Homo sapiens: one gene and its partners. The protein of the gene in region 6 interacts with the protein of the main gene of each other region in a pairwise test. Each region holds a gene or a part of one and is shown on either strand. Other genes may lie near its edges.

The links.
Region 1: the proteins of POU2AF1 (region 6) and KRTAP19-3 interact in binary tests that used the Homo sapiens proteins (3 or more experiments, as listed by UniProt).
Region 2: the proteins of POU2AF1 (region 6) and PAX8 interact in a two-hybrid assay, tested with the Homo sapiens proteins (one large-scale study listed by BioGRID and IntAct).
Region 3: the proteins of POU2AF1 (region 6) and POGZ interact in binary tests that used the Homo sapiens proteins (3 or more experiments, as listed by UniProt).
Region 4: the proteins of POU2AF1 (region 6) and SMAD4 interact in a protein complementation assay, tested with the Homo sapiens proteins (one large-scale study listed by IntAct).
Region 5: the proteins of POU2AF1 (region 6) and TBX6 interact in binary tests that used the Homo sapiens proteins (3 or more experiments, as listed by UniProt).
Region 7: the proteins of POU2AF1 (region 6) and POU2F2 interact in a two-hybrid assay, tested with the Homo sapiens proteins (one large-scale study listed by IntAct).

The regions. Positions count from the first base shown.
Region 1 is NC_000021.9:30,490,962-30,494,408, reverse strand, and holds KRTAP19-3 (keratin-associated protein 19-3), read left to right. Parts: upstream 1-2,395; 5' UTR 2,396-2,451; coding exon 2,452-2,697; 3' UTR 2,698-2,947; downstream 2,948-3,447. UniProt on the Homo sapiens protein: In the hair cortex, hair keratin intermediate filaments are embedded in an interfilamentous matrix, consisting of hair keratin-associated proteins (KRTAP), which are essential for the formation of a rigid and resistant hair shaft through their extensive disulfide bond cross-linking with abundant cysteine residues of hair keratins.
Region 2 is NC_000002.12:113,268,213-113,272,668, reverse strand, and holds part of PAX8 (paired box protein Pax-8), read left to right. Parts: intron 1-4,456. UniProt on the Homo sapiens protein: Transcription factor for the thyroid-specific expression of the genes exclusively expressed in the thyroid cell type, maintaining the functional differentiation of such cells.
Region 3 is NC_000001.11:151,420,939-151,425,394, reverse strand, and holds part of POGZ (pogo transposable element with ZNF domain), read left to right. Parts: intron 1-333; coding exon 334-440; intron 441-1,108; coding exon 1,109-1,446; intron 1,447-1,843; coding exon 1,844-1,998; intron 1,999-4,456. UniProt on the Homo sapiens protein: Plays a role in mitotic cell cycle progression and is involved in kinetochore assembly and mitotic sister chromatid cohesion.
Region 4 is NC_000018.10:51,053,441-51,057,896, reverse strand, and holds part of SMAD4 (mothers against decapentaplegic homolog 4), read right to left. Parts: intron 3,117-4,456; coding exon 2,904-3,116; intron 1-2,903. UniProt on the Homo sapiens protein: In muscle physiology, plays a central role in the balance between atrophy and hypertrophy. When recruited by MSTN, promotes atrophy response via phosphorylated SMAD2/4.
Region 5 is NC_000016.10:30,084,833-30,089,420, forward strand, and holds the end of TBX6 (T-box transcription factor TBX6), read right to left. Parts: intron 4,379-4,588; coding exon 4,111-4,378; intron 4,008-4,110; coding exon 3,861-4,007; intron 3,784-3,860; coding exon 3,713-3,783; intron 2,118-3,712; exon of another isoform or gene 2,020-2,117; coding exon 1,946-2,019; intron 1,864-1,945; coding exon 1,680-1,863; intron 1,607-1,679; coding exon 1,393-1,606; 3' UTR 961-1,392; downstream 1-960. Other genes in the region: PPP4C (serine/threonine-protein phosphatase 4 catalytic subunit), read left to right, coding at 1-23, 101-230. UniProt on the Homo sapiens protein: T-box transcription factor that plays an essential role in the determination of the fate of axial stem cells: neural vs mesodermal. Acts in part by down-regulating, a specific enhancer (N1) of SOX2, to inhibit neural development.
Region 6 is NC_000011.10:111,372,143-111,376,598, forward strand, and holds part of POU2AF1 (POU domain class 2-associating factor 1), read right to left. Parts: intron 1-4,456. UniProt on the Homo sapiens protein: Transcriptional coactivator that specifically associates with either POU2F1/OCT1 or POU2F2/OCT2. It boosts the POU2F1/OCT1 mediated promoter activity and to a lesser extent, that of POU2F2/OCT2. It recognizes the POU domains of POU2F1/OCT1 and POU2F2/OCT2.
Region 7 is NC_000019.10:42,121,758-42,126,213, forward strand, and holds part of POU2F2 (POU domain, class 2, transcription factor 2), read right to left. Parts: intron 2,538-4,456; exon of another isoform or gene 2,422-2,537; intron 1,170-2,421; exon of another isoform or gene 968-1,169; coding exon of another isoform or gene 940-967; exon of another isoform or gene 930-939; intron 820-929; coding exon 754-819; intron 622-753; coding exon 587-621; intron 426-586; coding exon 369-425; intron 1-368. UniProt on the Homo sapiens protein: Transcription factor that specifically binds to the octamer motif (5'-ATTTGCAT-3'). Regulates IL6 expression in B cells with POU2AF1. Regulates transcription in a number of tissues in addition to activating immunoglobulin gene expression.

The DNA of each region.
Region 1 (3,447 bases), on a different chromosome or scaffold from region 6:
TCTAGCAATAAAAAACCAAACCAAACCAAAACTGAAACCACTAAACTCCTCAAATATAGGCCTACCAGAGCAGAATCATAAATCAGTTGTGCTCTATTCATGTAGTAGACTACTTTTCAGAAATTAAAACAACAAAATTCACATCACATACGACAGAGATCTACCTAATAGTGACACACAGAAGAATTGGGGATGGAAATGGGAAGTTTCAGTATACTACATGAGACCACCTAAGTGAAGTACAGAACAAGAAAGCCTTATGTAGGATGTTAATTGTTACTCTACAAGGAATAATATTGACTGGTAGAGTCAAGCGCCAGACTTTGGGAATTAGAGTGTGCTTGTTATAGGTGGTCTATAAATATAAGAAAAATATCACCAACTTGTATACTTAAGATTTAAGTATTTTTAAATATGCCTTAAACAACAGCAACAAAAAGCAAATGAAATGATAGGTTATTTGTTCCTCTAAAGAAAGAAAGCTATTTGAGCTAATTTCTCTTTTAAATTCTTATTGTTGGATACATTCGTAGTATTGTTCATTTCTATGAGATGTAAGATTTTTACCTGTAAGAACTAGAATTCATTCATCTATTCAACACTTATATATTGAGTTTCTATTGCATGCTGGTCATTGAACTGCAGCCAGCAAATCTATCTGGAGAAATGCACAATTTCAAAATTGCTTATAAACTCATCAAAAGCTTAACAGTATATTCAAAGTAATAAAAATTAAACAAGAAATTATATATTTAAGCTTAAAGTTAAGGGCATATGTGGGTGGGGTTTGGGGTCAGCCTTGGGTCTAGGTGACTAAATTCTTAGAGTCAGCTGAGGTACTCTTTGTCTTTAATTATTATTTCCTTCATCCTGTCTTTTTATATTATACATATTTTTAGGGGATTCCTAAGACATTCACAATGCTAACAGTCTCTTACTGAATTCCCCAGGGTCTTTGGCGATGGCATCTATTAACATCTAACACTTTAATAAATACCTAACATCTTAGTAAAGCTTAGTTAGCTATTTTCTTTTAGGAAAAAAAAGAAACACACAATAGGTAAAGGTAACATAAAGGCAAAAATATCTGAAAAATCGAAGATTTTATTTATATATATATATGAATTTAAGTAAGTATTAAATGAAAATGGATGGGAGGCAAAAAGAATTGCATATATTTCACCATCTCACCTAGTCCCAGACCCTAATGGGAACTGAAAGAATATATTGAAAAGAGGAGGCCGGGCGCTGTGGCTCATGCCTGTAATCCCAGCACTGTGGGAGGCCGAGACGGGTGGATCACGAGGTCAGGAGATCGAGACCATCCGGGCTAACACGGTGAAACCCCGTCTCTACTAAAAATACAAAAAAAAATTAGCCGGGCGTGGTGGCGGGTGCCTGTAGTCCCAGCTAATCCGGAGGCTGAGGCCGGAGAATGGCGTGAACCCGGGTGGTGGAGCTTGCAGTGAGCCGAGACAGCGCCACTGCACTCCAGCCTGGGCGAAAGAGCGAGATTCTGTCTCAGAAAAAAAAAAAAAAAGAAAAGAAAAGAGGATAATTGTGTGGATCAGGAAAAAGGAATGAATGGGAGGAGGGCAATACAATCTGTATTTTTGGTAGCACCTTGGATGTCTAATATGCCAGTAAGGGAGTCGGGATGTGAAAACAATTTTGAACAGTTTGTAAAGCTGCTTAGGAAATAGATTTTTGATTACTGTGATTTGACTTTAATGTTTGAGCAATATACTGTTGTGTTGTTAAATCAAAATGGTTTTTATTTTTTAAACGAGTAAAACCAAAAAAAGAGAATATTGGTTATGATGGCCAATGTTCTAGAGTAATAGAAGAATGATGGCTTTATTTTAACTTTTTTAACCCCATGAAATTCTTTACTGTTAGGCATAGCAGGTGAGCAGATGGCTCCAGTCTTTCAAATGTTTGCTTCTCTTTAAAAAGGGACCTCACCTGAGGTAATAGATACCTCTGGAAGAATATAATAAATTTCAGAGCATTGAATTTAACCAAAGTCTGTTATTTAATCATAAATGAGTAAAACAATTCAAGGAAAGCCAGAGATGAAGCAATATTTAATTTCAAAACATAGCATTACCAACTATGTAATGCAATATGCCTACGAAGAAGTCTATTTAAGGTCTGGTATGCACAGACTTTGAAGCTACAGCAATTTCTTCTCATAAAAGTGATGCAATATGTTAAAGGGACAGCATGAGAAGACAGCAATGCAAGCTCAAACACTTTAATGAGTTTGAGGGCCTCTTCAGATGTCAGGATTGGGTCAGGTAAGTGTAACATACACAACTACACTAAAATAGGCAGCAAGTGTTTTGTTACGTGATGTGTCAGGGTATATAAGCATGCCTGCACAGATGTCAACATTCACACTCAGGACCTTGCCTTGAGCAGCAAACCAAACTCACTACCCCTGACACCATGAGCTACTACGGCAGCTACTATGGAGGCCTGGGCTATGGCTGTGGAGGCTTTGGTGGCCTGGGCTATGGCTATGGCTGTGGATGTGGCAGCTTCCGCAGACTGGGTTCTGGCTGTGGCTATGGAGGCTACGGATATGGCTCTGGCTTTGGAGGCTATGGATATGGCTCTGGCTTCGGAGGCTACGGATATGGCTGCTACCGCCCATCATACTATGGAGGATATGGATTCTCTGGATTCTATTAAACTACTGCCCCAGCAACACAATGTGTGAAATTATAAGAGGACTTTCCCAGAGCTGACTTCAATCATTGGACAACAAAGATCATGCTGGAGCTATTTGCACAAAAGAATTTAACATCTCAGAATTTCAGGCAATTTTTTTTCTCTGTATACCCACATCTCTATAATAATCCTAGTATTCTCTACTTTTGCTTTTAAAGCTGATTGAATTATCTGTTTATCTTCCAATAAAACATTCTATTTTCAAACACAATATGGTTCTGTTTTGTTCATGAAACTCAATTATACGTAAGTGATGATGTCAATGAGAGAAGCTATCTCCTTGGTTGAGAATCTATGTTTTTTCATATACCTCATAAACATGCATGCAGATAGATAAATACATCGATAGCTCCAAAGAAGAATAATTCTAGATTGAAATGAAAAGAACTGCAAAATGGTTAGTAATCTGATATTTTTCAACATTTTCCTTTTATTTAGATAGTATTCAGATTTAAGTCAACAACAAAAAGGAATACCTACTAAACATGTCTTTATATTTATATATCAAGCATATATGTTTTATTTAATTCAGATCACATTTGTCAACTCACTCTGAATGTGTAATGAATTCTTCTATCCATTCAAAATTTCTTTCTTTTTATTGTAAGAGCAAGCAAATGGTGACAGATCAAATGATATTCCTAGGTTAATTATGAAAGTGTATTTTCTTTCCAAGAATTATTGTAATTGGTATAACCTCACCCTATCATA
Region 2 (4,456 bases), on a different chromosome or scaffold from region 6:
TTCCTTTCGTGGGGAAGGAGTACAGAGCATGACAATCCAGGAGTCTCTTGGCTCCTGAAAACTCCACTCTGCCACACCAATCCTAGTTCATCCAGTCAGTGGTCAGTGACCCTGGGATGGATGGAATCTCTGCAGTGAGGTGGAGTAGGAAGAAGCATCCACTCGTCTTTGTTTATCTACAGTAATGACACTTTTAAATGGATCTTGAGGATTCATAATTATTTCCTTAGGTCCAGAGTTAGGGCTGACAAGACTGTTTGGGTTGCTGAAAGCCCCTCTAGACCCCTTCGTTGGCCAGATAGAAATACAATGAGCAAATTTCTCTTATATAAGCCACTGGCCAGAAAAATATTCATAGGAAGGCTTCTGTCTTAAACCTGTAATTCATGTAACTGAGTCTGGGCTTTACCTTGCTTGGCTGGTGGGGGTCCTTCCCCAGGAATGAGTCTCGATAGAAACCAGCATCTGTTTACTGAGGCATGTCTAAGATCAAGGGGAAGAAAGTCCAAGAGTCCCCGAAGGATACTTGGGTTCTGTTTCTGTGTTTCTTCCCGTGGACCCTCCATAGTCCTGAATGCCATATAAGATGCCAGCAATCCCTGTGGCTCAGCCAAGCCAGCCTCACAGCTCCTCCTGCTCTGCCCATGTCACATTTACATCCAAAGAAAAAGAACGTCTGCACAAGAGCTGAGCATACCTGGCACTTAGTGAGCTCTCAATGAATGAAAGCTGTGATTCTTCTCTCTGAGGACTGCCACAGGTGTGGTGTGGTGCTGAGAGCAGATGTATTCATCATCTCATTTAATTCTCACAACTCTGCCAGGCAGGTATTGCTACGACATTTTTATAGAAGAGAGGGGAAGGAACTGGTGTTCAAAGAGGTTGATAAGACTCCAATTCCCCTTTCCACTGCTCCCTACCTCAACCACCCAAAGTCCAGCTCATCAGAACTCGGCTACTAGATGATCGACACCTGGAATCCTAGTGGAAACTCCCATCAGAACCCTTGATAAGAAGGCCCAAGTGCCCGTGCTGGCAGTGACAGGCAGAGCCTTCCGTCTATCAGCTTGCTTTCCTCATCAGTGTTCCCCACTCTCCAGTTTAATTAAAATACACCCCTTTCCAGTATGGTTCTCAGTCTTCCCATCTGTGAAATGGAGAAGTGGTTCCTGCCTGGATGCCTCTCCTAGAAGTAGCTATGAGAAGGAAGGAGATGATCAGCCACTTGGAAAGGCAGAGGGAGGGAGGCCTTACTTTCACACATCCCCCCAAGGCTGCCGTGTCTCCATCTGCACTGGAAAAAAAGCAGCTATCCTCAGGCACCACAAGTTGAAGGACCCTGGGGAACTTACTTCCCTAACTTGGCATCTCCCAAGCACACTCAGCCTCCCTGCCTAGGTTCATCTTGGATGTGATGCGAACAGCTTCAGAGTGGCTGGGGAGGCTTCCCCATGCTGTTAGGGGCCAGCACTGGGGGCCCCATCCACAGGCAGCATAGCTAGGAGTGGTGGCCACTGGAGGTGCCGGTTGTTATGTCCCAAAGCTTAGGTTCATCCCCTCTGCCACTTCCTCAGGATCCCTCTCACTCAGGGGCTTAAAAGCAAGGCATTTCTCTTTTGGAGCCTCTGCAGAGGTTCAGTTTTAGAACGTTAGCTTGAAAGAAAGGGATTTTATTTTAATGTTTTCACTTTTTCATGTAGAAAGTAGCTGCTTAGCTCCCGGGCTCTCAGATGAAAACCTCTCTTTGGTTTAAGCAGAGGGAGAGATTGAGAAAGAAAAAATAATTCATTCCTCCCTGCTTTTAACTTTTTTTCGTCATCTTCAGCCACAATACTCATTGGTTTTGTCTTTTTTATTTGTCTTCTTAAATGGCCTTGGGGTGACATGGGTAGTTAGTGCTAATTAGTCCACTAGGACATATTGTGACTGTCAGGGCAGCACAGCAGAAGGGTCCAGGAGCTGGTTGGGTGACGCACCTAAGAGAGAAATGGCTTAATCTGCTGTCATCGGTGTGTACTACAGTGTTCGCGCACACCCAGGCCCTCTGTGTGTTGCAGTTTTGATTCTTCGGCATCTCCAGGAGGACAGTAGAACTTATTATTCTTGGGATAAACTCAGGGGCCATGAGGTGTCAAGAGAATGAGAGGCTTTTGAAATCAGCGTGAAGCCAGGATGAAAGCCCCTGCCCTGCAGGCAGAAGAAGAAGGCAAAGCCCGGGCTTCCATCTTGGCCCAGACCTTGCTGTTTTTGTGTGAACTTAGTCAAGTCAGATGTCTCTCTGGGCTTGTACTTCCCCTTTATAAAATATGGGGATGCTGCAGGGCTTCTGGGGAGTCATGTGAGTAAAACCTGTCTCCTCACCTGGCACATAGCTGCCACTCAAGACAATTTTCTGTGCTCCATGTAGTAGTCACCAAGGAGTGGAGTCTCCAGAACACATTCCCAAAGTCCCATTGTCGTAGTATTTCCTGTGAAACAGCCACCAGTAACTTGCAACCCAGTACTTCGTTCCATTTAAAATTTAGGACAGACTTTTCAATAATTCATGTGGACAAAATAATAGATCTACCACCTAGGAGTACTGGGATTAAATGAAGGGACGCATAGAAAGTGCTGGCTATGACCTCTGCGGCTGTTATCTGCTGTTACCACAGCCTGAAATGGAAAAGGATGCCTTAGTTCACCTTACCAGAAAACCCAGTCATAGGGAAAACACTAAGCTTTTGATAGAATGGCTGTCTGTGGACTGTGTGTTGAAATCCAGAACATTCTAAGGGTTTAATAGAGTTGGTCTTTGAGCAAAAATGAGCTCAAGTGGGTTTGCAGTTATGCTGTGTGTGCGGCTAAGACAGGACTGCAGGAAGACTTGCCTGGGGTACTTGTTTTTAATTGACACGGAATCATATATTTATTTTTAAAAAATTAAATCCACGTATCCTCCACCTTCTGCTTTCTTCTCTCTCCCTCCCTCCCCACCTGCCTCTGTCTCACAATTTTCTACTTTGGGTAATAATAATCCAGCTTTGGCCTGATAGCAAACCCTGGTTGACATTTAAAAGTCTCTGTGATTAGCTGAGCACCAAATCTCTGACTTAAGCTTTGCTTTGCTCCTTTGCTTCAACACTGAGCAAGGTAGAAGGCACCTCTACAGGGCAGGGAGCTGGAGTCTTGCTCTTCCCTTTCAAGAAGGCAGACCCGCAGAACCAGGAGGAAGAATGATCAGACAAAACAACTCAGTGGTAGGAAAAGGACTGAACACTAACAACCCATTCGGCAGGAGCACCAAAGTTCATTTTTCTTGAACAGTCACCCCAGCACAACTATGTTGTGGCTGTTGACAGGTAAACCCCATCTGGCTTTCTCCAGTCTGCTCCTCATTGTTCCAGAGCCAGTGTGCTCCATGACGGTCTACACTGGGGCTCCATCTCAGGGCTGCTGGACAGTTTGTGGCAAAATGTGGCAGGGCTGTAGGTAGAAGTGCCATGGAGATACTTCTGCCAAATGAAAATGCTTACTGGACACTTCCAATGCCTAGGCTCCATGCCTTCACAGATATGCAAACTTTCCCCTCTGTAGGCCTTACATCTCTTTGGCAGTATGAAAAGACCTGGGTCCTTCGAGCCTTGGGGACCTTCCTGGGCCCCCCATATTCCCTGGGGACATGGCAGTACCCCATACCAGGAAGGTCCCCATGGCCCATGGCCCACCCCCACTGCTGGCCATGGGGCTGTCTAGACAGGTGCCCCACACTGTGACAGGCCTGCCTGGGCCTCAGGGCTCCCCCTTTTGCAGGTGGCACCTGCTTTCAAGGGTCCTGCTTACAGTGACATAGCTGCTGTCCTGAGACTCTCCTTTCCTCAGGGCCTGGCTGGGGGCCATGCCATGTCTGCAAAGCACTTGGTCACGTGCTGCCCACATTCCAGCTGTCCTCACCCATCCCAGCTCCAAAGCCACCTCCCCATGAAGCTGTCCATGATTCCTCTTCCTCTTCCCCACCTCCCCAAGGTCTCCTAGCACTCTGTTTGTACGGCATGCCTTGCAGTCCAATTTTTGGAGAAGGCTTGATCTCTGTGGCTCGCAGCTTCCAGACTTGAGTTACTTGAGTACCTGGGACAATGTATGCCTCGCACATCTCAGAAGCTTCATAGGCTTTCATTATGCTGGTCTACCTGGATCCAGAGTTGTTCAAGGCTAGAGGGGGCTCACAGATGAGATTCTGTTGCCACATCTTACCAGTGAGGAAACTGAGACCCAGAGAGGTATGCCCCGACCCTGGTCCCACAGCCCTTGTGGCAGAGCAGACACTCCATCTCATCACCAGGACTCTTTCCATGACCCTGTGGTGACTTCCAGGGCATGTTGAGTTAGAGTGAGGGCTGACCCAACCCAGGGAGCCTTTGCTGTGGCCTGTGCTGCATAAGCAGGACCCAAGGAAATGAAGGGGCCTCCTTCGCCT
Region 3 (4,456 bases), on a different chromosome or scaffold from region 6:
GTAGCTGGGCTGGATTTGATCTGTGTGCTGTGGTTTGCTGACCCCTGGCCTAGAGTTAGAACAGTAAAAGGAAGCCTCAAACATAGTGATCTTGAGCCCAGGGAGGTCAAGGCTGCAGTGAGCTGTGGTCGTGCCACTGCACTCCAGCCTGGGCAACAGACTGAGAGACCGTGTCTCAAAAAAAACAAAAACAAACAAAAACCATAGTGATCTCTCATGCTTGCTTACCCTTTTATATACTTCTCAGGGAGTGTTTGACTTTTTCCCAAAAGGTCAGTAATCTTTTTCCAGTGTCATTGTATTAATCTTATCAATTCTTCTCACTTCTTTCAGTGACCTCTTCCATCCCAGTATTTGACCTCCAGGATGGTGGACGGAAAATATGTCCACGATGTAATGCTCAATTTCGTGTTACTGAAGCTTTGAGAGGTCACATGTGTGTAAGTGATATCACCTGTGATCCAGCTTAAGTGGCTTCTGCCATTTACCTTCATTAATATTGGAAGCTTGTAAGCAGGGGCTCTAAAATGACTGAAGCTTTTTAAAGGGTTACTGTTTCTCTTGGTCTGTTTTTAGAAGAGCTGTGTACTTTGGAATGTGATGGGATACATTTAAAGACCCTCAAATAGATCAGAACATATGTGATCTTACTTTCTTAGTGTGGTAGATTTTGAAACCACACAGGAGAACAGGTTTATAGATAATAAGGACTCAAACCATATTGGCCTCAGTTCATTTTTGTTAATTGTGTCATTGGATGAATCGGGAGCTCTTACTTCCATTTTTTAGCTTTTCATTTTTTGGTATTAGTCCAGATAAAAAGGTTGGAACTTCTTCTTTGCCAGGGAGCTCAGAGCCAAGTTATACTAATGATTAAGGGACCTAAGACAGGCAGGAGGGAGAAATACAAAGTATAGCGCTTGGGTGGCATATGTGGATATACTCTAGAAAAGGAGTAAAACTTGGAAACGCTAAAAAAAACTGAAGGGTGAAAGCTGAATGAGAATACCTGAAACCAAACCGTTAACAAGGAATGGTAGTGAAGTTAAGGAGTTAGCACATTCTAGCCCCCAGGATAACCAGAATGATCAGATGTCTTTCTTTATAGTACTGTTGCCCAGAAATGGTTGAATACCAGAAGAAAGGAAAGTCCCTGGATTCAGAACCCAGTGTCCCATCAGCAGCAAAGCCCCCATCCCCTGAGAAAACAGCTCCTGTTGCTTCCACACCCTCTTCTACACCTATTCCTGCTCTGTCACCGCCTACCAAAGTACCAGAACCAAATGAGAACGTGGGCGATGCCGTCCAGACCAAACTCATTATGCTTGTAGATGACTTCTACTATGGACGGGATGGTGGCAAAGTAGCCCAGCTCACAAATTTCCCTAAGGTCGCCACATCTTTCCGATGCCCACATTGTACCAAAAGGCTAAAAAACAATATTCGGTAAGTGTTTAAGAGCCTTGGAAGTTACCTTGAACAAGAGAAGACTTACATTTTCTTATATATTTTAAGTCTTTCTCTTTGGAGAATGGACCTAACTACTATGCAGTCTTGCTGGGGTTATCATTAAATCAATAACTAGGACTATAGAAGGAGATATTGTGGTAATAAACAAAAGGTAACTGGATCGAGTAAGGGAAAGCAGTATGTCTCCTTTCCCAGAACTCTCTTAGTTTCAAGAACTCATTATCTTTCTGGGCTCAGAAAAGGATATCCCAAACAGGAAGTCTGGGGAATGGAGGGGAGCAGATAATGTTTGTTCTGTGATTTTACCATTATATTTCTAAAAGGCTACCAATTTTTTATGTTTTCTGTACTTTCTCTTTGTGCTTTATTACAGATTCATGAACCATATGAAACACCACGTAGAACTCGATCAGCAGAACGGTGAGGTAGATGGTCACACTATCTGCCAGCACTGTTACCGCCAGTTTTCCACTCCCTTCCAGCTTCAGTGCCACTTGGAAAATGTTCATAGTCCCTATGAATCTACTAGTAAGTTTGGAAACTCTTAAACTCAAGGGGAATATACCTTGCTGTTCACTCATTGAATGGCGCTGGGGGGAGCCCATTATATTTATTTACATGTGGGTAACAGTGTAGAGGAAGTACTTTTCATATTTGTAGCCAGTTCTTTACTTCATTCACCTTGTTTTTTTTTACAAGCCTGACTTTTATTTTGTTCAAGCATGGATTGAGTTCAGTGTTAGATCCTGAATTGTTAGGGGCGTTGATTCAGAACCACTGTAGAAAAACAAATGTAATTAATTTATTTCTTAGGTCTCTTTATAGAAGGAACAGTCATCTATTTGCTCTTCCACTTTAGTTAAACCCTGATAGGTTTTATGTAGGCTAAAAGATAATATTGTGAAGTACTTTATCATTAAGACATTGCTTTCAATGAAATATAAGATGAGCTGGAGTGTTTTCTACACTGTATATTTTATACATGTAGGCTGGACATAAGCTCAAAGAAATTAAGTAGGATAAAAGATAATATGGCCGGGCACGGTGGCTCACGCCTGTAATCCCAACACTTTGGGAGGCCGAAGCAGGCAGATCACCTGAAGTCAGGAATTCGAGACCAGCCCGGCCAACATGGCGAAGCCCCATCTCTACTAAAAATGCAAAAATTAGCTGGGTGTGGTGGCGGGCACCTGTAATCCCAGCTACTCGGGAGGCTGAGACAGGAGAATCGCTTGAACCCGGGAGGCGGAGGTTGCAGTGAGCTGAGATCATGCCATTGCACTCCAGTCTGGGCAACAAGAGCAAAACTCCATCTCCAAAAAAAAAAAGATAATATTATGAAGTACTTTATCATTAAGACAGTGCTTTCAGTGAAATATAAGGTAAGCTGGAATGTTTTTCTACACTGTACATTTTATAGATAGATGTAGGCTGAACATAAGCTCAAAGAAATTGAGTCATTTGCTTATGAGCGTACACCTCTAAATACACCTCTACTGGGGATACATAGTGAGGATTTAAGCCCAGTATTGAGAATACTTCTCATGTCCTTTACGGGATTTCCAGTTTTGTTGTAAAGACAAAAATTATGTAAATATAGGAAAATGTGAGAACAAGATAGTATATTATAAACATAGACATTTTAAGATATCATTGATAGGTGAAATACTTCAGAGAAGGGAAAAAATCCTTGTGGCTAGGTTTCCAAGAAAGTCGTGCTTAAATTTAAGAAAGGTTTAGATGGATGGAGAGTAGTAAGAAAAGCTTTTAGGTGATTGAAAACAGCATGATCAAAAGCATAGAAGACATATGCATATTATCTGGATGCATTTGCTACAAGTAAAAATCCTTAACTAAAAATGAATTAAACAATAAGGACTGGGTGTGGTGGCTCACACCTGTAATCCCAGCACTTTGGGAGGCTTAGGTGGGTGGATCAGTTGAGGCCAGGGGAGACCAGTCTGGCCAACATGGCAAAACCACATCTCTACTAAAAATACAAAAATTCGCTGGCTGTGGTGGTGTGCGCAGGTAATCCCAACTACTCAGGAAGCCAAGGCATGAGAATCACTTGATCCCAGGAGGTAGAGGTTGCAGTGAGCTGAGATCGCACCACTGCACTCCAGCCTGGATGACAGAGCGAGTCTCTGTCTCAAAACAAAAGAAAACAATAAGAATATCTGTTATATCATTTAACTGAGAGATACAGAAATGGATGCTTCAGCCTAGAATTTGACTGCCCTGCTGGTTTTCAACAATTCTCTTGTCTCTGGCTCATAGCAGGGTGGCTGTATAAGTGTCAGGCACTATGTCCAGATAAAAAATTGTTAGACAAAGAAGAGATCTTATCTTCCCATCTTTCTTTCTTGAATCTGTTTTCTTATGAGTGAGAATTGCTTTCCTTTTATATCTCTTTGACCATTTATTGGCAAGGGAAGTGGGATTGACATTAATGGCTTACAGTAACACTAGGCAGTAGAAATACGCAAGCTTCATGAGTAATTTTAATTTTTTTCACTTTAAATACAGTAGCGCTCCCTTATCCTCAATTTTTCTTTCTTGAATCTGTTTTCTTATGAGTGAGAATTGCTTTCCTTTTATATCTCTGACCATTTATTGGCAAGGGAAGTGGGATTGACATTAATGGCTTACAGTAACACTAGGCAGTAGAAATATGCAAGCTTCATGAGTAATTTTAATTTTTTTCACTTTAAATACAGTAGCGCTCCCTTATCCTCAATTTTAGTCTCAATCACAGTCCAAAACTAGGTGAGTGCAGTACAATAAGATTATTGAGAGAGACACCACATTCACATAACTTTTATTACAGTATATTGTTATAATTATCCTTTTATATATTATATATTTTTAATTGTTAATCTCTTTGCCTAATTTATAAATTAAACTTTATCATAGGTATATATATATATATATATGAAAAAACACGGTATGTATAGGGTTCAATACTATCTGAGGTTTCATGTAT
Region 4 (4,456 bases), on a different chromosome or scaffold from region 6:
GTAGTGGCTTATTTCTTCACAAACATATTTCAAATGCCAGCAAAACACCACTGTACGTCTGGCCTATCATATTAACTTCTTCAGAGGTATGTCAGTTCATCCTGGCCACTCCATCCACCTCTCTCTCTGGACCTTTCTGATTAGGACCCCAAAAATCCAGGCTCAAGAAAATGTTGAAAACTGAAAAATTAATCACTATCAGCACTGATACTAGTAATGGCAGAATGCTAGGGTTTGACAGAGAAAAGCAGAGCAGAAAATTATTTTAAATAGGATGTGATAGTGAAGATGAGGAAGTTAAAAAGATCTAGCTCTGCTGTCCAATCAATATACCATTTACTGGTTAAAAACAAACAAAAAAACTATCAGTCTACTTTCAAATTTTTTCAAGAGCTTTTATAAACCAAGAATCATTTCTTTTCAAGAACACCATCATATTCCCAGATGTACAAGAAATTAATTGCCCTCTCTGTATGTAATATACCAAGAGAATCAAGCTTCTCTTGGCTTGTATTCTATTCAAAAACCATCCTATGATATTGCTTACTGTCCTACATTTTTAAGGCTTTTTTTTTAAAGTGGAAATTTGGTTTCTTAAAGAGCATTAATTAACTCGACTGTTAATCCTATTTGGAAAGCACTAAAGTTATAATTATTTATAACTGGCATCACCTCATTCTTTTCTAAATGGGAGTATAATCAGATGGAAGAGAGTAACATGTCACCATTGCTCAAAGTATCAAAGAAAAGGAATATTTTTCTTTTCTTTACATATCACATTTCCTTAAAGCTAAGAATTACAAAACCAAAAGCTAAAGAGAATATTTCAATACTCCCCAAATTATTTATCTGTAAAAATGACATTTTAGCAACCTCCCTTCCTACTCATCCCCCAGATTCTGCAAGTTATCTTTAAAGGTTAATTATGGTTTTGTTCATATTTTTAACAATTCTACAGGCAATACTCTTAGCTAACTTACAAAAATTGTCATTAACTACACAGGATAAATTATTTTAATTTACAGGTATTTAAAAGGAAATTCTTAAAATATTCAGGTGTCAAAAGAACATAAATTGTAAAGTGACTCACTGTAGTTATCCATACTGAATACTTCCCTTATACAATTCTAAGTATGTAAAATAAAGTTAAACAATACGACTAAATCAGCTCACGTAAAATAGCCTTTCAAATCTTCTATTTTAGTTCAACTTCTTTTCATCAATATACTTTTTGAGACCTAAGGGAACCCTCTTTTTTTTTTTTTTTTTTTTTTTTGGAGATGGAGTCTCGCTGTGTCGCCCAGGCTGGAGTGCAGTGACTCGCTCTCTGCTCACTGCAAGCTCCGCCTCCCGGGTTCACGCCATTTCTCCTGCCTCAGCCCCCGGAGCAGCTGGGACTACAGGCGCATGCCACCACATAAGGGAACATTTTGACACAAGTTCTAAAACTTACAGTATTTACGGTATTCGATTATTAAAATCTACCCAATAAATACCAGGATAAAATTAGCTGCATTTCATTTCTATCACTTTTTCTAATCTTTGAATAGGATTCAACCTCAGGAAACAACACAGTCAAAATGAAGTCACTTTAGTAAGCATTGACAAAGGCACAGAAATTCAATCTCCAGATAATATAAACAGAAGTAGGTAGCTGTGCTCTAGCACTAATCTACGTTCAAGTGGCTATAATGTACCTTCTTTTATTTTCTATCACTACCCACTGTTTGTCAACCATATTCCTAATTTGGTAAATAAAAAGTAGACAGATAATAGAAGCACCAAGTGATTAAGGAACTGGGTTCTCAAGTGCTTAACCTATATGACCCATTTAGAATATGCTGCCTATAGTGAGACTGTCATCTCTTAGATAGCAAACCAAAAACATGTTGCTTTGAAGTGGTGTAATGAATTAAAGGGGAAATTCTGGTATACTTCACTTGAAAACTCACAATTACAGAAATCAGTCCCCCATTTATTCCAAAGATCAAAATTTCTATGTTGAATCTAATCTGATAGTAAAGCAAATACAATAATGGTACTTTCGGTAGCAACTAACACAGTATTAGCCCAGAGCTGTCAAAAATCTATTCTGATGTGGGTTTACATAAATTCCTTTAGCAACTGCATGCAACTAACACCATACACATGCCAAGACAATGCTCTATGATTAATTGAAAAAAAAAAAATGAAAAAAAAGCTACTTCATTTGCCAAGCAGCAAACTATCAAACCTTTGGTTACTGTGAAAATAAGTAACAGAACCAGGTCATATGATCATGCCCCCAAAAACCTGAACCTAGCAGCCCCTCTCCCTCCTATGACATGGCAGAAAAGAAGGATCTTTCTGAAACACTTTTTTTTTTTAATTACACATATATTTTAAAAAGAGATATAGAAGTTAGCTTATATCAAAATTGACTTAATTAATGTCTATCTTGAGCAATATATAACAAATTTGTCAAGATCCCTTTGCACAGTGAGAAAATCAGACAACTACTATAAGGTAATATTGTCCCAGAAAAACCAAAATAAGAACACCGCATTAAAAGAAAGGTTGCAATTCCATTAACACAGACCTTCATAAACATCTTGGATCAAAACTACTTGTTAATTATTTAAATATTTCTCCAAAATATATCTGGGAGCTTAAGAGGCTACTTACTGCTACATGTAATAGTAAAGTATAAATCAGATCATTAATTTAAATCAATATTATAATCAAAGCCATTACTTAAATTCCAAGTGATTGTGCATACCTGTTTAATACCTGTTTACCTATGAAAGATACTACAGTTACTTTTAATGTTTACTTACTTGGAGTTTCCCCCCAAGTGACTACACATAAATAAGCAATGATTAGGAAAACTCAACTTGCTGACTACATCTGATTCTAGAACTCACTTGTGGAAGCCACAGGAATGTTGGGAAAGTTGGCAGTGCTGGTAGCATTAGACTCAGATGGGGCTAACAGAGCTGGGGTGCTGTATGTCTCTGTCGATGCACGATTACTTGGTGGATGCTGGATGGTTTGAATTGAATGTCCTTCAGTGGACAACGATGGCTGTCCCTCAAAGTCATGCACATATTCATCCTTCACCATCATACTTGATGGAGCTATATAGAAAATTAAACATATTTTAAATTTTTATAAGCTTCTATTCCCAGAAAAAAAAATCTTATTAGCAAGTAATATAATAACACCTAAAATCAATTACAGTGTAAATTACTAACCTTAATTCAGAATTTTTTCATATTATTTTAAAAGCATACTACTTTACCAGCAAAAGTCATTTATTCAGCGGTAACAGCATGAGATATATTTTATCAATCAATCTGACTCTCAAATTTGAAGCTAGTCTATGTTTCAACAGCCTCCAGCAACAATCCTAAAAAGGTACTCCTCAGTTTCTTGATAAACCTAGAAGAATAATCACCTAAATACATAAGGCAGGCAAAAACCGAATGGCTGGAAAATGTGTCCAGCTGAGAAAAACAATTATTCGGTCTAAATAGAGACTGAGTATTTAACTATATCTTTTTGTTAATTTCACACTGTGGAGATATGAGTGGGATCTGATAGATATCCAATCCCAGGATCTAGAATTATTGTTAAGCAACATATTCTTTAAAAATGAAGTGTACTGAATGTAATGTCCCCTATAGGTTTAGAACCAAACGGAAAAATTATAAATGAAAAGTCAAACTGAAATTTCCCTCTAGAAACCCAACCCAAATAAGAGTATTTGATTAATATATGGTGTGAGAAAACTCAGTAATCAACATCTTTCACCTATGTGATTACACCTTCATAAGCAAAGCTAGATTCCAGCTGATACAGCATAACATCTTTCCATTAACCAACCAGGAAATAGTTAGCTCTGCTGTATGACAAAAAGAAAACTGAAACTGAACTGCATTAACAATGTTAATTCTCTGCCCAGAACCTTCCCATTTGTTTTTAGGTTATTGTTTTAAGGTTTGCTTTTTACCTTTAGCAACCAATCCTTTATTGCTTCTAAACTAACACTACTCCAGAACTTAACAATCCACTGAACTAACAGTAGGTTCTCTTCTTAAAGCAGTCAATTAGTAGACCACAAAAAGACATTCCCTTTTTCATTAAGAACCAGCATATCATTTCCCTTATCTTTCCCTATGTCAACCTTTGAAAAAAAATCTACTACATGTAAATATCAGTTAAGTTACATGGGTACTTTTTATTAAATTGAGACTAGTTTAAGGCAGTAATAATCATCCATTGTGCAAGTTTCTATGTACAACCTCTTAAAAACCTCTTAAGAAGTATGTTCATGCATCAAAAGTCATGAAGATGATATTCTGAAGACCTATAAATCCCATTCCAAAGTTCCTCTTTAGAAATTTTATGGAAACAAAAAGATAATCAAAAGGATGCGTAACAAATTATGTATCAATAAAAAAAACTGAACACAACC
Region 5 (4,588 bases), on a different chromosome or scaffold from region 6:
TCGGCACCCAACTACTGCTACCGGTGAGCCGGCTGGGCCGGGCTGGGATGGGCGGGCATCTGAGCCGAGCTGCTCCTGACCCTGCTGCCCCGCCTTCCAGCTGTGGGAATGTGGCAGCCATCTTGGAGCTGGACGAGCATCTCCAGAAAGATTTCATCATCTTTGAGGCTGCTCCCCAAGAGACACGGGGCATCCCCTCCAAGAAGCCCGTGGCCGACTACTTCCTGTGACCCCGCCCGGCCCCTGCCCCCTCCAACCCTTCTGGCCCTCGCACCACTGTGACTCTGCCATCTTCCTCAGACGGAGGCTGGGCGTGGGGGGGGCTGTCCTGGCTCTGCTGTCCCCCAAGAGGGTGCTTCGAGGGTGAGGACTTCTCTGGAGAGGCCTGGAGACCTAGCTCCATGTTCCTCCTCCTCTCTCCCCACTTGAACCATGAAGTTTCCAATAATTTTTTTTTCTTTTTTTCCTTCTTTTTTCTGTTTGTTTTTAGATAAAAATTTTGAGAAAAAAAATGAAAAAATTCTAATAAAAGAAGAAAAATGGTTTTTGGGTTTGTGCCAGACTTGGTTGGGAATGCACAGGGTTGCTGGCCTGGGACCTGGGGTGGACGTCAGGGCCTTGACTGCCTCAGGGCCCCGACCTGCCAAGAGGGCCAGGCTCAGGCCAGTCAGCTTGCCCAGGGCCTCCAGGGGCCGCTGCCTGCTGGCTTCCCCAGCCCTAGGGAGAGGGCTCTGTTCTCATGGGCAGCCTTATCTTATTAACAGCATACACACACAGGCACACACAGAATCACAGGATTCTGATTTCTCCATTTTCCTGAAGAGGAGATGGGCCTAGAGGGCCAGTGGATTTTGTGCTAGGTCAGGCAGCTGGAAACACAGGTCTAGATCTGGGCCTGGGTCTCCTAGCAAAGCCTTTGCTCACCCAGCCCCGCCCAGGGCCAAACACAGGAGCCCAATGTTTCCTGAGCATGGATGGCTTTTGAGTTTTATTAACAAAAATACTCTGGTCCCAGAACAACAGACTGGTGTGGCCTGCACCAGTGTGTGTGGGGGGGTGGGGATTGAGCCCCTCCAGAGCCCATGGGGAGGCCTGGTAAGTGGGGATGCTGGTCTGTGGCCCCATTTGGCCAGGCAGAGCCCCTTCCATTCACACGGAGGTGAGAGCCGGGAAGGGGAAGCCGGCCCCAGCTGGACTCCCAGCAGCCTTGGTTAGGCTTTGAAGCCAGAGGGGGGTGGGAGTGAAATCAAGGTGTGAAGTTGAGGGGGTGGGTGGGCAGGCCCAAGGCGGCCATTTGGTGTGGGGGATGGGGCCGGTGGAGGTGAGGGGGCTCCAGGGCTGGGGGAAGGGAGCGGGAGGTTTGTGATGGAGGCAGAGGGGCCCAGCAGTGGTTCAGTACATGGGTTTGGAGCCCACATCCAGATAGCCCCCAGGCGCGGTGTATGGTAGAGGGAAGGGGCCCCCTTGGAGAAAGTGCGGGGCAAAGGGTACCGCCGGTGGAGCCGCTGGGTACCCGGAGCCCCCTGACCCGTGCGGCAGCTCCAGAAATGCAGCCGAGTAGGGGGCTGAGCGCCCGGAGTCTGGAGCCTCCGGGAAGCTGGGGCTCCTGACATGGAGAGAGGGATGTCAGAGCAGGGCAGAGGGACCCGCAGCCCCGCCTGGTCCCCTGTCCCACTCACCTGGTGGGAAGGTGACTGGGGGCCCCATGGAAAGCCGCAGGGTGCAGGAGGTAGGCCTCAGCACTGGGGCCACCACACAGAGGTGCCGGGGCAGCGGTGGCTTCCCCGGGGGCTGGGGCCTGTTCTGGATCTGATTCACGAATGTCTCCACCCAGGGTGGAGTCGCAGGGACCACCTGGTGTGTCTGGGGAGAGGGAAGGGAGAGGTTGGGCTAGGGAGGATCCCTGTCTCAGGCCTGGCCCCATCGCCATCGGGACTACACTCACCTCCGCTCCCATAGGCCTCTGTGGCTGCTGGCTCTGGGCCCCGCAGTTTCCTCTTCACACGGGCGTCTCGCTCCCTGGGGAACAGTGGTGGTGATGATGATGATGATGGTGATGGCCATGGTGATGGTAACAGTACTTACCCGGTGCCAGGCATTTCACCCTCCCAGGGACCCTGTCAGGTAGGGGCCATCATTATACCCATTTTATAGATGAAGAAACTGAAGGCCAGAAAATTAAATAACTAGAAAGTGGCAGAGCTGGAATTTTGTCCCTGCTCAAATTTGTCCATGCTTTCCTATTGTGTTTAGTATCAGTGGAAACTCCTTCCCAGTGGCAAGGCCAGGGCACAGTCTCACCTAGCTCATCTTTCTGCCCCATCTCCACTCTCAGCCTCTCTCTGGAATCCTCTTCTGTCCCCTCTTCACGGGCTGAACCTGTCCTTTTTCTTTTCATTTTTAAAATTTGAGATGGGGTCTTGCTATGTTGCCCAGGCTGGAGTGCAGTGGCACAGTCACAGGTCACAGCTCACTGCAGCCTCCAACTCCTGGGCTCAAGTGATCTTTCCATCTCAGCCTCCGAAAGTGCTGGGACTACAGGCATGAGCCACCAAACCTATCCTTGCCTCACTGCAAGCGCAAGTTCCTCAAGGAAGTCCTCCCTGACCTCCGAGAGCACACACCCCTCCCTCATAACATCCGTCACAGTTCTGCTTTTGCATTTGATGGAGTGACTCCTTGGTTCATGTCTGTCTCTTCTGACAAACTGGAAGCTACTTGAGGGCAGGGGCCAGCTCTGAGGTGCTGCACTTGGAACAGTTCCCACGGCCTTACGGAACCTTTACTGTCCGACATAACCTGGCTTCCCCTCCCCTGCCTGACTCTTAGTCACTCCACTGCAGCCACGCCACAGGCACAGCCCCACCTCAGGGCCTTTGCACGTGCTGTTCCCACTCCCTAGTGTGCTTTGCCAGATGCCCACCTGGCTCCCTCCCGTACTTCCTTCAGCTCTTTCTCAAGTGTCTTCTTCCCACTGAGGCCTTTCCAGGCCTCTTATCTAATACCTCACCCCAGTCCTTCCTATCTTTTCCTGGTTTATTTCTCTTCTCCTTTTTCTTTTTTTTCTTTTTTTTTTTTTTTTTGAGACAGAGTTTTCTTTTCTTTCTTTTTTTTTTTTTTTTTGAGAGGAAGTTTTGCTCGTGTTGCCTAGGCTGGAATGCAATGGCATGATCTCGACTCACTGCAACCTCCACCTCCTGGGTTCAAGAGATTCTCCTGCCTCAGCCTCCCAAGTAGTTGGGATTACAGGCGTTTGCCACCATGCCTGGCTAATTTTTGTATTTTTAGCAGAGACAGGGTTTCACCATGTTGGCAGGCTGGTCTCGAACTCCTGGCCTCAGGTGATCTGCCCGCCTCAGCCTCCCAGAGTGCTGGGATTACATGCGTGAGCCACCACACCTGGTCTCTCTTCTCTTTAGAATGGCTTCCTAACAGATGACATTTTATTTATTTCTCTTGTCTGCTTGTCTACTCTCCCCACTAGAAATCAGCTGCATGAGGGCCGGGGCTTTGGTTTGCTTTGTTTGTTTTATCTCCAGTGCCTGGAACTGTCCCTGGCACATAGCAGGTACTATATAAGTATTTGCTGAGTCAGTGAATGAATGTTTTCACTTACCACTGCATTTCTGATGTCCAGCACGGTGCCTGGCACACAGTGAGTGATTAATAAACATTTGTTGAATGCATGAACAAATGAATGAACAACTCCCACCTCTTACAGTTTCTGCCGTTCTCCCGGAAGCCTTTGGCAAAGGGATTGGCTGCAATCTTCAGTTGTGTGATCTGGGGACACACATGCAGGGTCAAAGCAACTGCGGTCTGGGCAGGGGGCCACCACCCCCTCAAGCAGGGTCACTCACCTGTGGGTTCTGGTAGGCTGTCACGGAGATGAATGTGGTCTCGGGGAAGCGGAAGGAGGCCATGCCCCCCCAGTGCTGGCTGCAGAGCTGGGCTGCCCGAACTAGGTGTATGCGGGGTTGGTACTTGTGCATGGAGTGCAGGATCAGCTGGGAGGGAGGAAATGGGAGTGATTCCCTGCCCTGCGCCTCACCCTTGGCCTCCCTTCCAGCACCCCCCAACCCTATCCTGGAGTCCCAGCCTGGGCCTCACGTGGCCGTGGGGGTCCAGCGTGCTGTTGGTGAGCTTGACACGATGGAAAGACACAGGCTGCCGCATCCAATGTGCACCAGTGGCAGGAGAGTCGGGGTGAATGTAGACACGGTCAGGCAGGCGGGGCTCTGCCTTGCCGCTGGGCTCCCAGCGCCGGCCCTGCCAGCGGTAGCGAGCCCCATCCACCGGAATCACATCCAGAAGAAACAAGTAGCGGGCCTCGGGGTCCAGGCCAGTGACTGACACTCGGCAGGCAGGGAACATGCGCCTGTGCAAGGGAGGGGACAGGAGAGGCCTGGAGCTACCCACTGGCCAGGGGTGGGCCCAGCACCAGTAACGGGACATAACAACGGGCTCCCCAGAGCTGTCAGAGAAACATCAAAGGAGGTGGAATTAGAACCCAGAGGGCAGGCTGGAGGCTGTGGCTCACACCTCTAATCCCTATACTTTGGGAGGCCAAGGTGGGAGGATCTCTTGA
Region 6 (4,456 bases):
TGCCACGGAGGCAGAAGCCTTGGCTCCCAGCAAAGGCTGCCTGCTACATCGGGCTCTCTACTAAAACTGCCCAGAAAAGAGTAGGGCTGGGTTATTTGGGGGCAAACTCTAGATCCTTCTCTGAGCCTTTTATTATAGCTAAAATATCTTCAAACTGTCCCGCAGAAGAGGCCCAGCAGCAAGCAGAGACCTTGTTTTCTTCAACAGGTAAGCTGAAGTAAATGTTAAACAAAATGGGTTCTCATGGTATGAACTACCATCTGCAGGGCTTTTTTTTGCCATTGGTCCCTTATCTGACATGGAAGGCCTGTGCTTTTACCAAGAATACTTCCTAAGCAATGTGAGAGAGACAGGCACTGTGGCAGGGAGACAGGACAGCTTAGCAGGCCAACACTTGAGGTCTGTTCACATGAATTTTGCTTTGTAGGAGAGTTACTAACTTAATCTTCATGATTCAGTTTCCTCATCTATAAAATGAACCTTACAACAGAATCTGCTTCATGGAGTTTTTATGAGGATTAAATGAGATAATGCACTCAAAGCATAGTGAAGACTGGCAGTTGTTACACTCAACATCCACCTTCCCTTCCTTTCTAACAGCCCCTGCATTATGGAGGGTGGCAATGTGCCCAGCTAAACAATTATGCTATTCTCCCTTGTAGATAGAAATGGCATCAGATGTCAGCAGAAGTTGTGTGTTGGGAGGGAGAAGGGGCAGCGATCAGGAGGCATGATCTTTTGCTATTCCTTTTTCTTCTTCTTGCTTGTCCGAAGATGTGATGCTCACAGATGTAATGGCTGGAGTTACAATGGCAACTATGAAAAAAATCTTGAGGACAAGAGCCACATGCCAAGGATGGCAGATTAGAAAGGAAAAAGGAGCCTGGGATGATGTTGGCACTGTGAGACTCCATAAGATCCTGAACACCCTACTGTGGACTTCTTTTATGTGAGAGAAAGGACACCACTGTCTTACTTAAATCTACGTTATTTCAGGTCTCTTCACCAGCAATCAAATGTAATCCAAACTGATCCAACAGAACATTTTGTATACTGCATAGCACCAAATAAGTTCTCCATTCCCCAGAGATGTTTGTTTATCACTGTTAAAAGGATTGAGCATTCTTCTGCTCTTAGCAATGCCCAAAGGTTTATTAGAAGCCATCCATTTCAACCTCCAGGTCAGCAGTTCTCAGCCTTCTCACCTGGGAGCCATTTGCAGCTCTCCTTCAATGCCCAAGACAATTTAATCAGAAGCTCTAGGTTGAGATCCAGGCATCTGTGTTTCTTAAATCTCCTCAGAGCATTCCAGTGTGTAGCCAAGGTATAAAAACACTGCCCTAAGCAGATAGAAGAATCCCATCTATTAAATTAAGGACTTCTGATTTTAAACTTTAATTTATTTTTTGTATAAACACTCAGGAAAACTCAGCAATTAGAGCTGGCAAAGAACCTCAATCAAGTTCAATCTCCAGGAAAATTAGCCAGGAAAAGGCAAGTTCCATTCCAGCACTAGAACATTTGAGACCCAAAGTGGTTAGGTGGCTTGCTTAAGGTCTCTCATCTAATTATCTGTAGAATGGAAAGTAAAACCCCTGGCTCCTGCCTACAAGTGCTTGTCCCCAGTATCACACAAGCGGGACAAGAGGGTTTCAGAGAAGGCCTCCCCATCCCAGGTAGGCTCACTTAGTTGTCAAGCAGTTCTACAAAAATGAGAAAACTAGAGTGTTATTAAGCATTTCATAAAGGTGAGAATTATGTTAATGTTCATAATCAATTAGCCAACTTTGGTTTGGTTGGCTCAGAATAAGAAATAGGTGGACATCTTCATTAAGTGGGAAGATAAACTACTTTAGAAAGATGTCAAAGGGGGAAAAAACACTTTGTAATGGGAAAGTTAAAAGCAAATATTTATAAGACTTCTTTATGAATTAAATGTCCACATATTTAATGAACAGCTGTAGGCAAACTTGATTTTTTTTTTTTTTTTTTTTGGTTCCTCATGAAAGAACAGAATCCCAAGTGTGAATTGGGAGAGAGCTTTCAAAACTTCTGAGTCAGTAACTTTGGGGACAAATCTGGCATTTTCTTTAGTAAATAAATATAAGGGGCAGGAAGTAAAATATCCATCAAGAACATCATCTGCTTTTTTACCAATTAAATCTGTGTATTTGGTTGATGTTTGTCCTTTATTTCACCTCCAGACAGTGCACGTGAATTTGTGTCTCTCTTTTGGATTCTACTTGCCCTTAACAGCAAGAACTGCTTAATTGGCCAGGCGTGGTGGTTCACACCTGTAATCCCAGCACTTTGGGAGGCCAAGGCAGGTGGATCACTCGAGGTCAGGAGTTCGAGACCAGCCTGGCCAACATAGTGAAACTCCATCTCCAATGAAAATGCAAAATTAGCTGGGCATTGTGGCATGTGCCTATAATCTCAGCTACACAGGAGGCTGAGGCAGGAGAATCACTTGAATTTGGAGGCAGAGGTTGCAGTGAGCTGATCTTGCACCACTACATTGCAGCCTGGGTGACAGAGCAAGACTCTATCTCAAAAAAAGAACTGCTGAATCAATGGAATCAACTTGGTAAGAAGTAAAGGTGCTCACTAGGCTTATTAAATAAGCAAAGGTTGTAACATAGAATAGAAATATTAGAGGTTGTCCAGAAACCTAAATTACCTCTCATTGTAAGTTGTGCTTAAATTTATGTAGGAGATAGGCTTCCAAAAATTATATGCATAGTACACATTTTACTTATCTTTAACTGCCTCCCAAACAATATTGGCTCTTTAGTGGAACCCTAGAGTACATCTGAAGAGCAGAGTTCTATGTTGATGAGAATTTTAAGTCCTTAATTTTTCTGTTTGCTAAATCTCTGCTCTGTTCAAGTTGTCTGAAAGCAAAGGCATATCCATGACATAATAATCTGATACGAATTATTTCCTGTTCCAAGGCCAAGTCCACAGGACACCAAGACAATCAGCCAGTCCAAAGAAAATCAGTCAAGCCTGCCTTTCATTAGCATGTAGATTGTTCCCTAATACAAACAACAACAATAAAAAGCAACTGTCCAATTTGTTCACTTTCTAACAAATGGAGTTCAGTTTATTATACACAGTTCTATCACTTTTAAGGAAGAAATTCAATCAAATCAGTTTGGGGCATTGTACAAATTATTTAATGAATTGGCTGCAAGTTTTATTTCCCATTGGTGTTGGCAATGTACAACCCCAGGATACTGAGTATCTTTTTTTTTTTTTTTTTTTTTTTTGAGGCGGAGTCTCGCTCTGTACCCCAGGCTGGAGTGCAGTGGCACGATCTCGGCTCACTGTAAGCTCCGCCTCCCGGGTTCATGCCATTCTCCTGCCTCAGCCTCCCGAGTAGCTGGGACTACAGGGGCCTGCCACCACAACCCCAGCTAATTTTTTTGTATTTTTAGTAGAGACGGGGTTTCACCATGTTAGCCAGGATGGTCTCGATCTCCTGACCTCGTGATCTGCCCGCCTTGGCCTCCCAAAGTGCTGGGATTACAGGCGCCCGCCACCGCACCCGGCCTGATACTGAGTATCTTAAGGAAATGAATGCCTGAAGAACCAAGCAAATCATCTCAGACCAGAGGTTGGCAATGTTTTTCTATTATAAGCCAGAGAGAAAATATTTTAGGCTTTGTATGCTGCACAGTCTCTGTCACAACTACTCAACTCTGCAAAAGCAGCCCTAGACAATATTCAAATGATAGACAGAGCTGTGTTCCAATAAAACTTTATTTACAAATGGAGTGGCAGGCCTGATTTGGCACAGAGGCCATAGTTTGCAGACCACTATTTTAGACCCTTGGAAAATTTTGCAATATCCTATCACCCAAGAATATTTAGACTGTGGCTTTTTAACTATTCTAATCAAAGTGTGGAAAAGAATATATGAATTTAACATAACACTGATCATTCAAGATGGGCCCACAGGTGGTTTCCAGGACGGAAGGTACTAACTCATCCCTACCACTACTTATCAGGAAACTTGCTATCATTTTACCTACATTCTCTACTTTAATTCTCACAAAAACCTTGGGAGGCAGACATTAGAATCCCCACTTCCCAGATAAGGAAATGAATGGAAATTTCCTTCTCACAAAGAAAGAACTAAGTTGCACAGGCAACTTTCAGACCTGTCTCCCTCCAAGGTTCCTGCTATTTCCACTACACTGTTACTAGCTGGGGAGGGATGGTAATTCTTCACATGTGCACCTGACCAGCAGGTCCAAGTCCAGAACCCAGGGAGAGAATCTACAGATGGAGTGACTTCTTCATCCAATTGGCCCATCAAGCAAATCTCAAATCCATTGGTTGGGGCTTGAAGATTTCTACTTCTCTGTGCCAGCAGTTCTGGGCTTTGTCACTTTATGCTCTAATCTTAACCAAAAGCCAGGGTTCACATTTAGTCCACAAACTAGGGTCA
Region 7 (4,456 bases), on a different chromosome or scaffold from region 6:
CTGGTACCAGCCCCCCCACCCCCACCTCAGCTGGCCGCTAAATGTGTATATTGGGGGACAGGCGGTGGTGCAGGCCTCTGTTGGGTCAGGGAAGTTGGGATGGGGGCGGGCCTTTGGCTTCCTGTTGTTCATCGCCCTGGGGCTCTGGGGGGGATTTCCCTAGCCACCCCCACCCCCTAGGGAAGGGGAAGGAGCCTGCGTGAGTCACAGGCCTGGGGTGGGAGCCCAAGAGTGAGAAGGGGCGGGAGGAACCTCGTTACCAAGGTACCAAGGCTCAGTGCTCTCTCAGCCCTTGGACTGAGGCAGGCCTCCTGAGGACCCTCTTCCAAGCGCTGCCCACTTCCCTGGCTGTTCTGACAGGTGCTTACCTTTGTACTGGGGCCAGTTGGGGACACGGAGAATGGGGAGGTCTTATTTTGGGGGTTCTGCAAAGAGAAAGTAGGAGCAAGGGGATGGGAATAGTGCAGTGAAGCAGCTTCTGACCACCCCCGCTCCCTGCCCTCCTACCATAGGCGGCACAGAGCCCCCTCTGAACCCCTCTCCCCATTCCTTCCCACCCCCTCCCGCTTATCCACTCCCTCCTAACCTGATGATTAGTGTCTGGTCCATTTCTTTCGGTGTCTGCAAAGAGAGGGAAAGGATGTGTTGTCATCAGCCACCCCCACCACACCTGTCCCCTCCCAGCTCTCTTCCCATCTGTCCCACTTCCCCTGCCCACGGTGACCCCTGCCCCCCTGCTCCCTGCCCACCCACCTGTGTGCTCTGATGGGGAGTCCAGACCTTGCTTCTCGGCCTCCAGGGGCTTAGACATTCTTATTTCTGGGGACAGAGGAGGAATGGAAGTGGGGTGAAGGAGGGGAATCCAGGAGGGCTCTCGGGCCCCCATTCCACCACACTCCCCAAGCCTTTCCCCCAAATTCCCCCCTTACCCCCAGCCACCTTGGAAGTGTCTCTTCCCAAGAGACATGTCCTCCGTTCTGGGCCTCTGCCCTCCTCTGGCAAGATGAGACACAGCACTTAGGCCTTGGGGGATCTTGCCTTATCCTTTCACCTCTCCAGAAAGTAACACAGGGGTGTTACCCACAGTGCAGCAAAGGGCAGGGCAGGAGATGGAAGGTGGTCGTGAGAAGGTATCAGCTGCCCAGGAGGAGGCTGGTGACGTCCCAAAGGAGGGAGAGCAGCCTTGGGCCTCCTCCTGGGGCGGGCCGCCCAGGCTCCCGTCCTGCCCTACCAGGTTTCGGGTGAGACATGTTTTCCACTCTGAGTGGGGCCTCAGAGATGTGATGGGGCTGCAGCGTCCCCAAAGGAGGCAGTTGTCAGATCTCAGCATGTGTGATTCAGCCGCCCTCTGGCCCTCTTCCCACCCCACCACTTTCCCCATCCACATCTTACTCCCACCTGGACTTTCTTCCTATGTTTAGCACACCGGCCTAGCAGACCCAACCTCATCCTCTGTAACCTCAGCTCCATCTGGCTCTACCCCTGAGCTTGTCCTCCAATCTAAACCTGATCTGGGACTTCACGCTTGAGCCCCAGCTGCAGTCTCAAGTCCACCCCTGTAATACAACCCCATTCTATAGCTCCCTAGGCCCAGGAAATGAAAGGAGGTGGCCAAGGGAGGGTGGCAGGCAGCAAGCACATAAACCCACGGAGACAAATGCCTGTCCTCAAAGCGCTCTGATACTTTTCACAGAAAGGCGAGTGCTCACCAGTGCCAAGCATAGAGCTAGATATGACTCACAGCTCACATTAGCGGTTAGTGCTAATATTACCCCGTTTTACAGAGGAGGAAACTGAGGCTCCACGAAGGGATGTCACCTCCCCAAAAGCACAGCAAGACAGCAGATGTGCCCTGATTGGACCCCTGGTCTTCATGACTGCTGGGCTCCTACTTCTAATCGGATCCACTCTAGTCTAATGTCCCCTAGTCCTGACTTCCAGCCATCTCATCTCCAACAGTTCCCTCGCCCAAGCTCATCCTGAAACTGAATCCAACCCTTCCTGGTCCTAGACCCCAGGACAAATCTGGGCTTCAGCCTGACCCATCCTTAGTCCACTTACTCACCTTGAATCCCAAGTTGTGCCCAGATGGCTCAAGTCCTTCATCTGACCTTGACTCCCAACTGTCCTGAGATCCTGTCCCTGATCCAAACTCTTCCCACAACTCACTCCAAAATCCCTGCCTAAACCATGACCCCACTCCTACTAAAGGAGCTGTCCAACTCTAGTGTTCTCTGCACCAAGATACTTAAAGAAGACAGCTAAGCCAGGCACAGTGGTTCACGCCTGCAATCCCAGCACTTTGGGAGACTGAGGCAGCCAGATCTCTTGAACCCAGGAGTTCAAGACCAGCCTAGGCAACATGGAGAAACCCCATCTCTACTAAAGACACAAAAATTAGCTGGGCATGATGGCACGCACCTGTAGTCCCAGCTATTGGGGAGGCTGAGGCAGGAGAATCGCTTGAATCCAGGAGGTCAAGGCTACAGTGAGCTGTGACTGCACCACTGCGCTCCAGCCTGGGTGACAGAGTGAGACCCTGTCTCAAAAAAAAAAAAAAAGAAAAAAAAAAAGAATGGAGCTAAAGTAAGGGATAAGAAATAGGAAGAACTCAGTAACTGTAAAAAAAAAAAAAAGTCTAGAAATCTTGCAATTGAGTATTATTCAATGTGAAATGCTGCTTGAGTTTTAAATTCCTAATTAAAAAAACAGGTCATGCATTGCTGGTGGGAGTGTAAATTGATACAAGCACCACTCAGAAAAGCTGAAAAGATGCCCTCTCCCTAAGATGCAGCACGTCCACTCCTGGGCATCTGCCCAAAAGAAACACGTGTCCTGCCCATCAAAGGACATGGGCAGAATTCTTCTGCAGTCTTTCATAATGGCCCCAAACTGGAAACAGCCTAAGGGGCCGTCAACAGGTGAATGGATAAATAAAATGTGGTATGTCCATACAATGAAATATGCCACAGTAATGAAAAAGAACAAACTCCTGCTTCATACACATGGCCGAAGCTTGGAGACATGAGGCTGAATGAAAGATGCCAAACACAAAGGCAGACATAATTTATGATTCCAATTACAGGAAATTCAAAAACGGGCAAGCTGATAGCAGATGATCACAGTCAGATGAGTGAGCACCTTGGGGGTACTGACTGGGAAAGGGCATGAGGAAGCCTGCACCAGGTAAGAAAGGATCTTGTTTGGTGGTTACAGGGTCCTTACATAAGCAAAAATTCATCAAGCTATACACTTAAAATTTGAGCACTTTACTCTATATACGTTATGTTTTAACAAGCAAGAAAACATTTAAAAGCTAAAAAGCAAAACGCCAGCACACAGTCCCATTAAGATGCACACTGCACCAAGGCAGGTAGATCACTTGAGGCTAGGAGTTTGAGACCAGCCTGGGCAACATAGTGAAATCCCCGTCTCTCCAAAAAATAAAAAAGTTAACCGGACATGATGGTGGTGGGCACCTACAGTCCCAGCTACTCAGTAGGCTGAGATGGGAAGGTCGCTCGAGCCCAGGAGATTGAGGCTACAGTGAGCCGTGATTGTACCACTGCACTCCAGCTTGGATAATAGAGCAAGACTCTGTCTCAAAAAAAAAAAAAAAGATGTAGACTGTTGAGGGTGGGGGTGGGGAGTGGGTGCCCAGGACGCTACCAGAGTTCAGGTCCTGTTTCCTGGCCCTGGGGACAGGGCATTAAATGGCTACTGATACAAGATATAAGAAGGACAAGAAGGGAGCTGGGCAGCAAGTGTGTCCTGACTTTGGAGCAGTAAAGGCGGGAATCCTGCCTGATCCTAGCTCTAGTTCACCCAGACCTTAGCCCTACTTCAGGCAGCCACTAACTCTAACCCGGTCCTAAATCCCACCCCTCCTAGCATCCCTAAAACTGCAGCCCCAGCCTCCTCTGGCCTCCGTCCCTCCAGCGGAGCTCCACATTGCCTCAGGGCAATCCTTTCCTGGCTCCTCCCTATCTCCTGGAGAAATAAACAACCTGGCCTCCAGGGGCTGGCCCACCACCCTGTACTGCTCTTCTCTTGCAGCTCATGCACAGTGCTCTTCACCCATGTCGAGCATCTCCCCCTGCTTGGGGGTCTGCTTGACAGCAGGCTGTGCAGGTTCTACACTCCCACCTAGCTGGGCATCCCTCTCCCGTCCACAGAACAGGGCAGCCTCGGACCCCACTGCCAGCCCAGAAAGTCCACACTCATCCTTAACCTCTGCTATGGGCTAAGTTGCATCTACCAAAATTCATACACGGAAGTCCTAATTCCTGATACCTCAAAATGTAATTGTATTTGGAGATAGGGTCTTTAAAGACGTAATTAAGGTAAAATAAGGTCATTAGGGTGGACCTTACTACAATCTGACTGGCATCCTTATAAGAAGAGGGGGCGGGCGCGGTGGCTCATGCCTGTAATCCCAGCACTTTGGGAGGCCGAG